2 separate regions of the Homo sapiens genome follow, and region 2 is linked to region 1. The links come from fine-mapping of genetic effects on gene expression. Tissue or cell type: whole blood. Region 1 holds a variant in brackets; the other region holds the start of a gene. All regions are shown on one strand. Distances are between the middles of the regions. Region 1 holds the start of SRRM5 (serine/arginine repetitive matrix 5). Region 2 holds the start of CADM4 (cell adhesion molecule 4).

The links. PIP is the estimated chance that this variant, and not a neighbour inherited with it, causes the effect.
Region 2: it holds the start of CADM4, and the variant in region 1 is the best candidate, but not a certain one, in a credible set for the expression of CADM4 in whole blood (INTERVAL, PIP 0.71).

What each region holds. Positions count from the first base shown.
Region 1 is chr19:43,611,324-43,614,287 of GRCh38, reverse strand. It overlaps ZNF428 (zinc finger protein 428), which reads left to right. Exons shown (of 3, transcript NM_182498.4): 2 at 1-59. SRRM5 (serine/arginine repetitive matrix 5) reads right to left here and starts at 2,200. Exons shown (of 1, transcript NM_001145641.2): 1 at 1-2,200. The coding sequence starts at 2,166. The coding sequence ends at 19. The variant G/A (reference allele first, on the strand shown) is at 1,388.
Region 2 is chr19:43,638,528-43,641,027 of GRCh38, reverse strand. CADM4 (cell adhesion molecule 4) reads left to right here and starts at 1,178. Exons shown (of 9, transcript NM_145296.2): 1 at 1,178-1,301. The coding sequence starts at 1,238. RefSeq lists a silencer at 1,155-1,294.

The DNA of each region.
Region 1 (2,964 bases):
GCCAGCTGAGACTGGGGGCTACGCCAGCTTGGAAGAAGATGATGAAGACCTTTCCCCAGGTAAGGTGGCCTTAGAGGTGGTGGCGTCGGCTTGACTGTCATCCTGGCTTAGGGTTTGGCCCCCACTGGGAAATGTTGATGGGGAGTGGCTGCTTGTCTTGCTAGGGGTTCTATTCTGACTGAGACTGCTTGTCCTAGTAGGGGATCTCTTCCAGTCGGGACTTCTGGGGACTGTAGATTGACTGGGGTCGCTCTCCTTGCTAGAGGTTCTAGATTGGCTATGATTTCCTTCTTTGCTGGGGGTTCTAGATCGGCTATGAGCTTTCTCCTTGCTGGAGGCTCTAGGTCGACTGTAACCACTCTGCTTATTGGGGCTTCTAGATCGGCTGTGATCTCTCTCCTCGCTGGAGCTTCTAGATTGTCTGCGCTCTCTCTCCTTGCTGGGGCTTCTCCATCGTCTGCGATCTCTCTCTTTGCTGGGGCTTCTGGATTGTCTGTGCTCTCTCTCCTCGCTGGGGCTTCTAGATTGGCTGCGATCTCTCTCCTTGTTGGGGCTTCTAGATTGTCTGCGCTGTCTCTCCTTGCTGGGGCTTCTAGATCGTCTGTGATCTCTCTCTTTGCTGGAGCTTCTAGATTGTCTGCACTGTCTCTCCTTGCTGGGGCTTCTAGATCGTCTGTGATCTCTCTCTTTGCTGGGGCTTCCAAGTTGGCTGTGATCTCTTTCCTTGCTGGGGCTTCTAGATCGGCTGCGATCTCTCGCCTTGTTGGGACTTCTAGATCGGCTATGATCTCTTGCCTTGTTGGGACTTCTAGATCGGCTGCGATCTCTCGCCTTGTAGGGACTTCTAGATCGGCTGCAATCTCTCGCCTTGTTGGGACTTCTAGATCGGCTGCGATCTCTCGCCTTGTAGGGACTTCTAGATCGGCTGCGATCTCTCGCCTTGTTGGGACTTCTAGATCGGCTGTGATCTCTCTGCTTGTTGGGGCTTCCTGATTGACTGCGACCACTCTCCTTCCTGGGGCTGCTAGATCCCCTGTGATCTCTCTCTTTGCTGGAGCTTCTGGAATGGCTATGACTTCTTTCCTTGCTGGGGTTTCTAGACCAGTTGTGACTTCTTCCTCTTCTGGGGGTTCTAGATTGGTTTTGACTTTTCCCCTTGCTGTGGCTTCTAGACTGGCTGTGTCTTCCCATCTGGCTCAGAATTCCCTTCCGGGTGCGACTTCTTGCCCTGCTATGGTTTCTCTTCCAACTGTGACTTCTCACTCTGCTGTGCGTCCTCTTCTGACTGCCACTTCTTGACCTTCTGGGGCTTCTAGATTGGCTGTGACTTTGCGGCCTGCTGCGGGTGCTGGCCTGGTTATAACTCTTGACCCTGCTGGACATTTCA[G/A]TGGGGCTGTAACTCTTTTCCCTACTGGGGATGATCATCTGACCGTAGCTCTTCACCTTCCTTGATGAGGATGGAGATGGGTTGTCACTCTTCTCCTTGGAGGGAATTCCAGTCGGGGTTTGACACTTGGCTGTACTGGGAGTTACAGCCAGCTCGGAACTCCTCCCTATACCTGAGCCTCCTGGTGGGCGGTAACTCTTCTTGCTCAGATTTCTAGGCTGGCTGTCACTCCTTTCCCTGTTGCTGGTTCTAGGCCGGCCGTAACTCTTTCCCCGGCTCCCTTTTTGCTGTGAAGTGGGAGTTCTCACCCTGCTGGCCATGCCTGGTCTGGCACCATGAGTTCTTATCCTGCCAGGAGTGCTGGCCCTGCTGGGTGACCTCTTGGAGCTGCGGCTTCCCCTTCTGCCAGGTGTCCTACCCCGGCTGTGTGTGCCCCTCCGCTGGTGGCATCTCACGTCGCTGGCCTTGCTGGCTTTGCTGGTCCTGGTGTCGGTGCTCACCCTGCTGGGTGTTCTTGCTTTGCTGCGGACTCGGGACCTGCTGCTGGGCCGGTTAGAAGGGGCTCTTTTTGTACTGGTCGATTTGGTGGACTTGGAACTGCTTGGGCTCATGACTGAGTTACGGGATGTCGCTGGTTTGGTGGGCACTAAGGATCTGTTGGGTGTTGCTGATTTGGTGGACTTCAAGGAGGCAGGAGGCTTGGGATCCGCAGTGGGCATGGAGGATCCACTGGGTGCCAGAGACATACTGGGCTTTGAAGATCTCTTAGGTGAAGACATGGTGGGCGCAAAAGGGCTTGTGGTCCTGGAAGTCACAGTAGACATGAAACACCTGGTAGCCGTGGACGATGACCTGATTGCCTGTCACAGGCCAACTGTGTGAAGTAATAGTGGGCATTGAAGACTCTGGAGGGTGAGTGGTATGAAGTCAGAGGTGGGAGGAGAGAGGGGAGGGGTCCCAGCCTGAGGCTGGAGATATTTCCTCTGGTTTGCAGCCATTCAGCAGATGTCTTCTGAGGCTGACTCATGCCCAGCATTGCTGGGGACACAGAGATGGGGCAGACCCAGGCCCTGCCTTCAAGGAGCCCATAGTCAGTGGGTGGGGAGGGGGGCCACTGCCCAGAGTGGTCAGGGTGTGATGGAGAGCAGTGCAGGGGCCGGGGAGCCCATACGAGAGAGACACTGACCGCTTGGGGAGTCAGCGAGGACTTCACAGAGGAGGTGACATGAGCTTGGCTTTAAAAAGGAGCAGGAGTTTTGCCAGTAGAGAAAGAAAGGGTCAGGCTGGGCGCGGTGGCTCACACCTGTAATCCCAGCACTTTGGGAGGCTGAGGCAGGCAGATCACCTGAGGTCAGGAGTTCAAGACCAGCCTAACCAACAAGGTGAAACCCCATCTCTACCAAAAATATAAAAATTAGCCAGGTGTGATAGCACACGCTTGTAATCCCAGCTACTTGGGAGGCTGAGGTGGGAGGATCGCTTGAACCTTGGAGGCGGAGGTTGCAGTGAGCCAAGATCACGCCATTGCACGCCAGCCTGGGTGACAGCGAGACTCTCTCTCGAAAAAAAAAAAAATG
Region 2 (2,500 bases), 27 kb before region 1:
CACTGCACTCCAGCCTGGGCAACAGAGCGAGACTCCGTCTGGGCGGGGAGGGGGGAGGGGGGAAGGAAAGATGTTCATAATTGGCACTTCTGGACCTCAGTTTGCCTGACAAATGGGCATGAGAGAGGTCGAGGCCTTCTTTCCATGGTTTCTCACTCTTTCTGGGTCCCATAGGTAATGATCCCGCATCAGGTCTACAGGGTGTCACAGAAGTGGGCTCAGGGAAACCCACTCCCAGGAGGGAGAAGGGACCTAAGTCTGGAGGGGTGAGTCACCCTCAAAGATGGGGAGAGAGGAAGGGCAGAGGCAAATACATGCAGAGAGAGGGAGAGAGGCTGGGGCAGGGAGACAGCAGGGAGGAGAGGGGACGCCAGGGCTTGGAAGGTGTTCACAGGAGCCTCTCCCTCCTGGGACCCAGGATTCAGGCTTCCTTCCAGTTAGTTCACTTTCAGGGGGCCCCTCCCGGAGAATGACGCGGAAACACGGGGTTTTCAGGTCAGGACAGGAGAGAGGGAGGGAGGGAACTGACCCCACCCCACTCCTGAGCCCCAGCCTCGCCCTGCCCTGGGAGATCCTTGACCTGCCTCGACCTCCGGACCCTCCGGACCTCCAGCTGCAGCCTCCCCTGTCCCGGTGGCTCAGCTCACAGCCTCTCGCTAGACTCCAGACACCCACCTGCCCGCAGCACGCCTCTCACACTCACCTTTCCCACGTCGCACTCCCTCCCTTACGCTCCCCCGTCACGCTGGCCACGCTCTCCCTTCGCACACACCGCACCCCACGACGCCCGCGCCCCCACCCTCGCACAGCCTCCAGCAACACCCTGCCACCCTCCCCTCCGCGCAGCGCAAGCACCCTGCATGCCAGCAACTCCGCACCCTCGCGCGCAGCACCTGGGCCCGCACGCAGCACCCTCACCCAACACCCTCCATTTCCCGCGCTCACCGAGATCCCCCACCTGCTCCCACGCCGCTGTCGCCCTCCCGCGCACCCCTTCCCGCCCTCCTCACCCCTCTCCTCTCCAGCTTTCGCACCCCGCACCGTTCCCCCACCGTGCCGTCCCCCCGATTGTCTCCGGGCCTCTCCTCCGTCTCCCCCTCCCCTCCCCGGCCCCGCCCCGGCCTCGGCGCCCCGCCCCCGGGCGGGCAGGGGGCGGGGCGCGGGGGGCGGGGCGGGCGGCGCGGGCGGTGCAGGTGCCGGGCCGGGAGCGAGCGGCGGCGGCGGCGGCGGCGGCACCATGGGCCGGGCCCGGCGCTTCCAGTGGCCGCTGCTGCTGCTGTGGGCGGCCGCGGCGGGGCCAGGTAGGGTCGGGGGCCGGGGTCGGCCGGCCGGGCTGGGGCGGGGGGCGCGCTGTGGTGACAGCCCGGCAGCCTCGGGGCCGCAGAGGCCGAACAATGCGCGCGGGGCCGGGCCGGGCCCCCTCCCCGGGACAAAGCGCAGCGCGGGCCGGGAGCCGGGAGCGACGAGCGGGGGAGGGGGCGCGGGGCCCGGCCGCCGTGCCGCAGCCCCCCCACCCGCGCAGGCTGGATCCCGGCGGGGACAAAGGGCCCGAGACCCCCCTACACACACAAGTCCGCCCTCCCCAGGCCGGTCCCGCTGTCCTTCTGTCCAGTCTCTGCGTCCCTCTGTCCGCCCGTCTCTGAACCCCCCCGTCTGGCTCCTCGTCCCCCTACCCTTGTCCTCTATCCCTCAGTCTCGAAGTCCTGTCCCTCCTTCTGTCTGTCTCCCTCTCTTCTTGCCTCGGTGTTCCTCATCTATTCTGTCTTTGTCCCCTACCTCTGTCCCCTGGTCTCTGTCCCCTTTTCCTGGGTCACTCTGTCCCCTCCATCATCCTGTCTATTCTCTTTCCCCCGGATTTCTGCCCTCCCTCTCTGCCCCTATTCTTGGTCCCTGTCTCTGTCTCGCTGTCACCCTTGTTTTTCTGTCCCTTTTTCTCTGTCCCCTATCTGCCCCATCCCCTTGTCTCTGTCCCCTGTCTTTCTGTCACTCGTTTCTCTAACCCTTTCTGTCACCTGTCTCTTTCCCCCTTCTCTGTCCCACTATCTCCATCCCTGTCTTTCTGCTGTGCCTCCTCTCTCTACGCTTACAGCCTCCATCCCGGGATCTCCCATTCCCATCCTACCTTCCTCCCTCTCTCTATCCCTCTGTGCCCCTGAAGAGGAATTCAGTCAGGCAGGGCATTCTAAAGAGCCCTGGAGGGGAACATCTGTGTGCATGTGTGTGGGGAAGTGAGAATGGGGGACCTTGGCGTGTAGGCACACACGTGGATTCAGCGAATGCCTCTCCAAACCCTGCTCACCCATTCACACACCCAGGCTTGACTCACAGAGAAGCCCCTGTCCAGGACATCCAGGGAGCCATCCACATACCCTCATCACACACTGTGAGAAGCTGGAGACCCCCGAGGTTGGGTGACCCTGAGAATGGGGACAAGGTCAGGAAATGTCACCCACACACACTCTCACACTGTGTAAGTCTTGAACCTGCCACGGGTCACCCC